Regions from separate parts of the Homo sapiens genome. Here all the other regions are linked to region 3. Evidence: fine-mapped expression QTL. A gene starts in region 3. Each other region holds a variant in brackets. All regions are shown on one strand. Distances are from middle to middle.

What was found. PIP is the estimated chance that this variant, and not a neighbour inherited with it, causes the effect.
Region 1: its variant is the best candidate, but not a certain one, in a credible set for the expression of NAA25 in whole blood (TOPMed, PIP 0.59).
Region 2: its variant is the best candidate, but not a certain one, in a credible set for the expression of NAA25 in nucleus accumbens (GTEx, PIP 0.68).

What each region holds. Positions count from the first base shown.
Region 1 is chr12:112,032,012-112,034,773 of GRCh38, reverse strand. NAA25 (N-alpha-acetyltransferase 25, NatB auxiliary subunit) reads left to right here. Exons shown (of 24, transcript NM_024953.4): 23 at 1,395-1,541. Among named protein-coding and RNA genes, the nearest start is that of MIR3657, 4.3 kb to the left of the region's middle. RefSeq lists an enhancer at 1,070-1,571. The variant C/A (reference allele first, on the strand shown) is at 1,488.
Region 2 is chr12:112,447,483-112,450,218 of GRCh38, reverse strand. All of the region lies in intron 2 of PTPN11 (protein tyrosine phosphatase non-receptor type 11), which reads right to left. Among named protein-coding and RNA genes, the nearest start is that of PTPN11, 30 kb to the right of the region's middle. The variant G/A (reference allele first, on the strand shown) is at 1,088.
Region 3 is chr12:112,107,544-112,110,305 of GRCh38, reverse strand. NAA25 (N-alpha-acetyltransferase 25, NatB auxiliary subunit) reads left to right here and starts at 1,523. Exons shown (of 24, transcript NM_024953.4): 1 at 1,523-1,590. The coding sequence starts at 1,533. RefSeq lists silencers at 1,574-1,653, 1,674-1,753.

The sequences.
Region 1 (2,762 bases), 76 kb after region 3:
GGCGGCGGATCTCAGCTCACTGCAGCCGCCGCCTCCTGAGTTCAAGCGATTCTTCTCCCTCAGGCTTCCGAGTAGCTGGGACTACAGGCGTGTGCCACCACGCCCAGCTAATTTTGTTGTTGTTGTTGTTGTTGTTGTTGTTGTTTTTGAGACGGAGTCTCGCTCTGTTACCCAGGCTGGAGTCCAGTGGCGCGGTCTCGGCTCACTGCAACTTACGCCTCCCAGGTTCAAACAATTCTCCTGCCTCAGCCTCCGGAGTAGCTGGGATTACAGGCGCCTGCCACCATGCACGGCTAATTTTTGTATTTTTAGTAGAGATGGGATTTCACCATGTTGGCCAGGCTGGTCTTGAACTCCTGACCTCAAGTGATCCGCCTGCCTCAGCCTCCCAAAGTGCTGGGATTACAGGCGTGAGCCACTGCGCCTGGCCATATTTTTAGTAGAGATGGGGTTTTACCATGTTGGCCAGTCTGGTCTTGAACTCCTGACCTCAAGTGATCCACCCGCCTCAGCCTCCCAAAGTGCTGGCATTACAGGCATGAGCCACCACACCTGGCCTATAATATAGTTTCTTTAGGATAGCTCTTAGATCTGAAATTAACTGTATATATACATTTATACAGTTAATAAATGTATATGCATATATACATTTGTACTCATCCCCAACAGTGTTGAGTATGTATCTTTAACCATCTGGTAGGTGAATATTGGTATCTCCTTTTTCTAATACTGATTTTTAAAATTTTATTGATATTGAACTGTCCAAGAATACTTCTTGAGTGAAAAGCTAGCTTTATTAATTGATTGGCTAGGTTTTTTAGTTGTATCACATGTTTCTTGGATTTCTTTGATATGTCTTCTATTCTTTGTCCAAGTTTCTTATTGTGGTAGTAATATTTTTCCTATTTATATGTGTTGAGCTACTGGGTTCTTAACATAATAATGTTACTAATCCCCTGTCATAGGTGATGCAGTTTTTTTTTCAGTTTGTTATTTGTCTTTTAACTTGAGTGATTTTTTTTTTGTCAATGTAGTAATATTTTTAAAAACAAGGATAATCTTTTTAATGGTTTTTAGCTTTGTGTGATGTTTAGAAAGGGTTTTTCAGCTGTCAGTGTCATGATTGCAGAAGTTGTTACCTAATTTTCTTCCAGTGCTTTGATGGATTTTTTTTTATTTAAGTATTTAATCTATCGGAAATTTATTTTAATATTACTGTGTTATTTTGTATCTCCAAATGTCTAGCTGGTTATTTTAGTACCATTCATTCACTTGAAACCACTGGTTTGAAATGCCACTATTTAAATTCCCTCACATCTTTCAGTAGCTTTTGTGATGTAGATATGGGTAATATGTTTGATAATGTTTCAACTCTTTTTTAATCTTTTTCCCAGCCACCTGTCTTTACCAGTTTCCAAGACTATGTTACTGGGCTTCAGACTTTAATTTCCAATGTTGTGGATCATATTAAAGGGCTTGAAACACAT[C/A]TAATTGCACTTAAACTTGAAGAACTTATTTTAGAAGACACTTCTCTCTCACCGGTAAGAGATTGTAGGCAATCGGCAATGTTTTCTACACACACACAAACACTCTGTCTCTCTCTCTCATCTTTATCACAAGGACAAGTTAAAGTTCAATTTATCATTTCCTCTTTATAAGACTTGTGACTAGAAGGTGCTTGGCAGTAGTTTCTTGTTGTGTTGTTGGTGGTAGGTTTTTTCCCCTCTTCATTTCTCCCCATACGTCCTCCTTTCTATGCATTTTTGGGGTTGTTCTTTTACTATGAAAACTAATGCCAGCATTTTGAGCAACATGGAACCAGCCATATTTTGAAATCCAGGGACAATCTTCTTGAATAGAATTTACCTGCTGCTGAGTTAGCTGTCTTCCTTGCCACCCAGTTATCACCTGAGAAAGGAGAAATGCTGGACATGAGAAGTAATTATGTCAGTAATAATTAGGCTAGAGCAAGCCAACCAAAAAGGGAATGAAACCAAGTATGGAATCAAAGGTACCACCATCAAATGTCTTCTGATATTATTTTAGGTCTTTTCAAATTCTATTAGTTAGCAAAATCCTTATAAAGCCTTTGCCCTTAAAATGACGATTCTTTTTTGTAAATGTTAATTCACCGGCCTGGAGTAGGTTTAGGATTTTGGTAGGGGCAAGAAGGACAGTGGTGGAGTCGTCTGTTTCTAGCCTGTTGGTCCAGTGATGAAACTGATCTTAAGAAAATGCTTCCCTCCGGGAGTTTGTCTGAGCTAAACTGCTGAGCTAAACTGCTGATGAGGGAATTTATCCAGTAACCTGAGGGCAGCCATCATCATAGCCCCAGACCTTCATAGGGAAGGGAATGAATAGAATTTTCCTTAGCACACCAGCCTTAAGAGATTGTAAGCCCCTCTTTTGTAAAGCTTAAAAACGTTAGACTTTGAACAGAGTGCTTACTGTGGGAAAGGGCTCAGAGCAGTTCACATTACCAAAGATTGATTAAAAAAAGCAGACATGGGCTGGGCACAGTGGCTCACGCCTGTAATCCCAGCACTTTGGGAGGCGGAGGGAGGCAGATCACGAAGTCAGGAGATGGAGACCATCCTGGCTAACACGGTGAAACGCTGTCTCTACTAAAAAAATACAAAAAAATTAGCCGGGCGTGGTGGTGGGCGCCTCTAGTCCCAGCTACTCGGGAGGCTGAGGCAGGGGAATGTTGTGAACCCCAGAGGCAGAGCTTGCAGTGAGCCGAGATTGCGCCACTGCACTCC
Region 2 (2,736 bases), 340 kb before region 3:
AAAGAAACCCAAGGAACGAATTTACCTATTCCCTATAAGAAATACGATGGGTGAAATAACCACATGTCAACCAACTCAACACAAAGGTCTTTATTAGTATCTTTACCTTGCATATCTTTTTTTTTTTTTTTTGAGATGGAGTTTCGCTCTTATTGCCCAGGCTGGAGTGCAATGACGTGATCTCGGTTCACCGCAACCTTCGCGGTGGATTTACATACATTATAAATCCAGGTTCAAGTGATTCTCCTACCTCAGCCTCCCAAGAAGCTGGGATTACAGGAATGCGCCACCACGCTCAGCTACTTTTGTATTTTTAGTAGAGATGAGGTTTCTCCATGTTGGTCAGGCTGGTCTGAAACTCCTAACCACAGGTGATCCACCCACCTCGGCCTCCCAAAGTGCTGAGATTACAGGCGTGAGCCACCACGCCCGGCCTACCTTGTATATCTTCTATTTTGAATGACTGGCCTATCGAATTGCATATATTAAGTGACAATAACTGTATAGCTACCAAAACACTTGTACAAAAATATTCATTGCCACTTTATTCATAATAGAAAAACATTTTGTTTTTTAATCATAAAAATGTATAAACAAATAGTGCTACATTACTATTCATACAATGGAATACTATGCATTATAAAAATTGTTGTGTTACTACTCATACAATGGAATACTATGCAGCAATTTTTTTGTTTGTTTGTTTGTTTTTGAGACAGAGTCTCACTCCATCACCCAGGCTGGAGTGCAGTGGTGCAATCTTGGCTCACTGCAAGCTCCACGTCCCGGGTTCACACCATTCTCCTGCCTCAACCTCCCAAGTAGCTGGGACTACAGGCGCCCGCCACGACGCCCAGCTAAATTTTTTTGTATTTTTAGTAGAGACGGGGTTTCACCATGTTAGCCAGGATGGTATTGGTCTCCTGACCTCATGATCCGCCGCCTGCCTTGGCCTCCCAAAGTGCTGGGATTACAGGCGTGAGCCACTGTGCCCGGCCACTATGCAGCAATTAAGAAAAAAAAAAAAGTGATGGCCAGGCATGGTGGCTCACGTCTGTAATCCCAGCACTTTGGGAGGCTGAGGTGG[G/A]AGGATCACCTGAGGTCAGCAGACCGATACCAGCCTGGCCAACATGGTGAAACCCCGTCCCTACTAAAAATACAAAAATTAGCTGGGCGTGGTGGCAGGCACCTGTAATCTCACCTACTGGGGAGGCTGAGGCAGGAGAATCGCTTGAACCCGGGAGGCGGAAGTTGCAGTCGGCCGAGATCTCACCACTGCACTCCAGCCTGGGCAACAAGAGTGAAACTCCCACTCAAAAAAAATAAAAATAAAAATAAAAAGACACATGTAATTTTAAAGACACATGTAATGACACAGTTTCCAATACGAGGTAGTGTTATCCCAAAGCACAAAACAATATATGCAAAAGGTTACTATATTCATTGAGGCATTATATATCATTTTAAAATATTAGACACAACTAAATCGCTACCTGCTGGTGACAGTATATAGAAGTTATAAAATATTCACATGATAGAATGCGATCCAGCTGATTAAAAAGATGAGAGAGATCACTAAAAGATTTAGGTAACTGAAAAAAATTACAGAGAAATATATTTAATGTTCTACTTGATGTGTAAAAATAAAAGGAAAATAGTAATAAAAATATTAATTTGCTTATTTTTATAAAAAGAAACATAGGGCCAGGCATGGTGGCTCATGCCTATAATCCCAGCACTTTGGGAGGCTGAGACAGGCAGATCCCTTGAGGCCAAGAGTTGGAGATTAGCCTGGACAACATGGTGAAACCCCATCTCTACTAAAAATACACAAATTAGCTGGGTGTGGTAGTGTACACCAGGCGCTGTAATCCCAACTACTTAGGTGGCTGAGTCATGAAAATCACTTGAACCCAGGAGGTGGAGGTTGCGGTGAGCCAAGATCACACCACTGCACTCCAGTCTGGGCAACAGAGCAAGATTGTCTCAAAAAAAAAAAAGAAAAAAAGAAAAAGAATGAAAGAAACACAGAAGGGTAAACAAGAAATTAATAGAAATGGCTACCTACAGAATGGAGATAGTGTGCAAGGGAGTAGGAGTAAGAATGAGATTTCTCAGGCCAGGCGCGATAGCTCATGCCTGTAACCCCAGCACTTTGGGAAGCCAAGGCAGATGGATCACTTTAAGTCAGGAGTTCAGGACCAGCCTGGCCAACATGGTAAAACCTAGTCTCTACAAAAAATACAAAAATTAACTTGGCATGGTGGTACATGTCTGTAATCCCAGCTACTCAGGAGGCTGAGGCAGGAGAACTGCTTGAACTCAGGAGGCAGAGGTTGCAGTGAGCCAAGATTGTGGCCACTGCACTCCAGCCTGGGAAAAAGAGCAAGACTTTGTCTCAAAAAAAAAAAAAAAAAAAGGCCAGGCATGGTAGCTCATGCCTGTAATTCCAGCACTTTGGGAGGCCAAGGCAGGCAGATCACCTGAGGTCAGGAGTTTGAGACCAGCCTGGTCGACATGGTGAAACCCCATCTCTACTAAAAATACAAAAATTAGCTGGGCATGGTGGCATGCACCTGTAATCCCAGCCACTCCGGAGGCTGAGACAGGAGAATAGCTTGAACCCAGGAGGCTGAGGTTGCAGTGAGCTGAGATCACGCCATTGCACTTCAGCCTGGGCAATAAGACTGAAACTCCATCTCAAAAAAAAAAAATAGATCGTTATCAATCAGCATG
Region 3 (2,762 bases):
AATAACGAAAGAATTCCTAACAGGACCCATTTAGGATTAAACAAATTTTATTGGGGGTCTGAAGTAACTCCCCAAACCTCCGTGATTTAGTAGGAGGCAAGATAAGGATAATCACCCCAGCACCTATTGCCATTTAGATTAAGTAAATTTACTGAGGCTTCAAAGGAAAGTCTTCAGGACTCAAACCTTAGTTATAGACTAAAGTGAGTTAATCAATTATTATTATTATTATTTTTTTTTTTTTGAGACGGAGCCTCCCTCGCCCAGGCTGGAGTGCAGTGCCGGGATCTCGGCTCACTGCAAGCTCCGCCTTCCGGGTTCACGCCATTCTCCTGCCTCAGCCTCCCTAGTAGCTGGGACTACAGGCGCCTGTCACTGCGCCCAGCTAATTTTTTGTATTTTTAGTAGAGATGGGGTTTCACCGTGGTCTCGATCTCCTGACCTCGTGATCCGCCCGCCTTGGCCTCCCAAAGTGCTGGGATTACAGGCATGAGCCACCGCGCCCGGCGAGTTAATCACTTATGTCTTTAGATGAATGCACATTTACACGTAGACATATAGCTTAGAAGGTATATAAGCTCTGGAAAGCTTTGTAATTTTAAGTTGGTCTGGTGATAATTTCCAGGCCTTCTCCCTGTAACTGGTTGCAGAAATAAAAACTCGCTTCCTCTCCAGTTCATCTGCATCTCCTTACTGAACCAGGAGAAACAGCAGCCTGACGCTCAGTTTGGTCCAGGAACAGGTGGTGGAGGGCTCTCGAACTTTTTTCTTTTTTTTTTTTTTTTTTTGAGATGGAGTCTCGCTCTGTCGCCCAGGCTGGGGTGCAGTGGCGCGATCTCGGCTTACTGCAAGCTCCGCCTCCTGGGTTCACGCCATTCTCCTGCCTCAGCCTCATGAGTAGCTGGGACTACAGGCGCCCGCCACTACGCCCCGCTAACTTTTTTTGTATTTTTAGTAGAGATGGGGTTTCACCGTGTTAGCCAGGATGGTCTCGATCTCCTGACCTTGTGATCCGCCCGCCTCGGCCTCCCAAAGTGCTGGGATTACAGGCTGAGCCACAGCGCCCGGCTCTCTCGAACTTTTTTGGCAGATTTTTGCTGTTGATCAGCCCCGCTTCCCCAACTTTCCCCTGGGTCTCTCTCCCCCGGGAGTTTCTGGTTCCTCTGCGATTAATCACAGCCAAGTCTAGCTGGTTCTTCAGGACGGAGAATAAATAGGATAAACAGGAGCAGCCGAACCCTAACTTTGAGAGCTTTCTCCCCTCCTCTCCTAACTTCCCAGTCAGTGACTCGGAAGACTTTAACAGCAACAGCTGCCTCCTCTTGCCAGCTTGATCCCACCTGCTAAGTGAAGGAACAGCGTTTAAAGAGGTGGCAATCGGCAAGGGTGGATGCTTCCCTTTCCGCGCAGGCGCGTTCAGTCGCAGCACCGCGACTATCGTGATAGACAAGCGAGATCGACGCTGGCCCTTTAATAGCCCTTTCCCGGGGTCCTGCCCCGCGCGTGCGCACTGTGGTTCTGCGCTTGTCATCATGGCGACGCGGGGCCATGTGCAGGACCCTAACGACAGGCGCCTCCGGCCCATTTACGGTGAGTGTCTTGGACCAGCCCGCTCGCCAGCCCGACGCGCCGAGGGCTGCCGAGGCTGGGGCGAAAGCCCAGGAGGGGTGCTGAGGGCCGGCGCGCGGGCCGGGCAGGCGCAGGGGGGCGGGCCGCGCGGGCCACTAGGCCGCAGCCGCGGGCCTCGCGTAGGCGCCGGCCCAACCTTCCTCAGCCTTGGGGTGGTAGTGGCGCGGTCTGGGCAGCAGCTGGTCGGCAGAGCTGGCCTGCTTGGCAGGCCCCGTGGGACGCGTGGTTCTGCAGACACCTGCGCTACCCGCAGGCTGCATCGTTACCGCCGCTCCTAGGGAGACCGGAGATCTCCCCGAAGGTGGAAGCCGGCTCCGGCACGAGGGTGGGACGCCCTGCCTGAGGGAAGATTCCCTACCAGAGATTTTTTTTTATTTACGGGAATTGGGCCTAGAGGGTTGTCTGACTAGGTGGGCTTCGGTGCATAGGAGAAACTGAGGTCCGGAGTGGGGAAGGGGCTGACGCAAGGTCACCCAGATCGAGTCAGGAGCAGGCCCGAGATTCCAGGCTCCCAATCCAGAGCTGTTGGGTGGAGAAGCAGCTACTCTGGTCACACGTGGGAGGCGGGGGGAGGGGGTCTTGGGCCTAAAATAGCGGTGAAGAGATTGTGATAGCTCGTGTCAGAGGGGCATGCAGAGCTACTGGAGGGCTTCTCCTTTCTGCAGCTTCTCTGTGGTTTTCTCTGCAGCTTTCCTTCCCTGTGCTAAGCAGATCCCTCTCCACAACTCTTACCTCAACCCGCAGACTTGAAGACCTTGATGTCATCTCATCCATTTACCCTGGTAGTGAAAAATCACAGATTTTGAGTTTGGGAGAAACCCTTTTCCAATAACCGAAATGTGTAATTGGATTGGTCCTTTTTGCATTTCCTTTCCTCTTAGATGGTTTTATGGTCTTGGTCTATCTCACTTAATGGTGAGGAAGCTTCAAGGTCAGTGGTTTTTACAAAAGTAGACATCGTATTTATAGACCTCATGTGGATGTTACTAAATTGGAGGCTTCTCTCCAAGGTGGGAATCGTTTTGGGAGCGGGGGGCGGTGGTTAACTTTGTTTCTGGCCACAGTTAGTCCGGCTTTTATTTCATAATTTGTGTGATTTTTTTTTTTACTCTCACATCTCATTTGATTTTAGC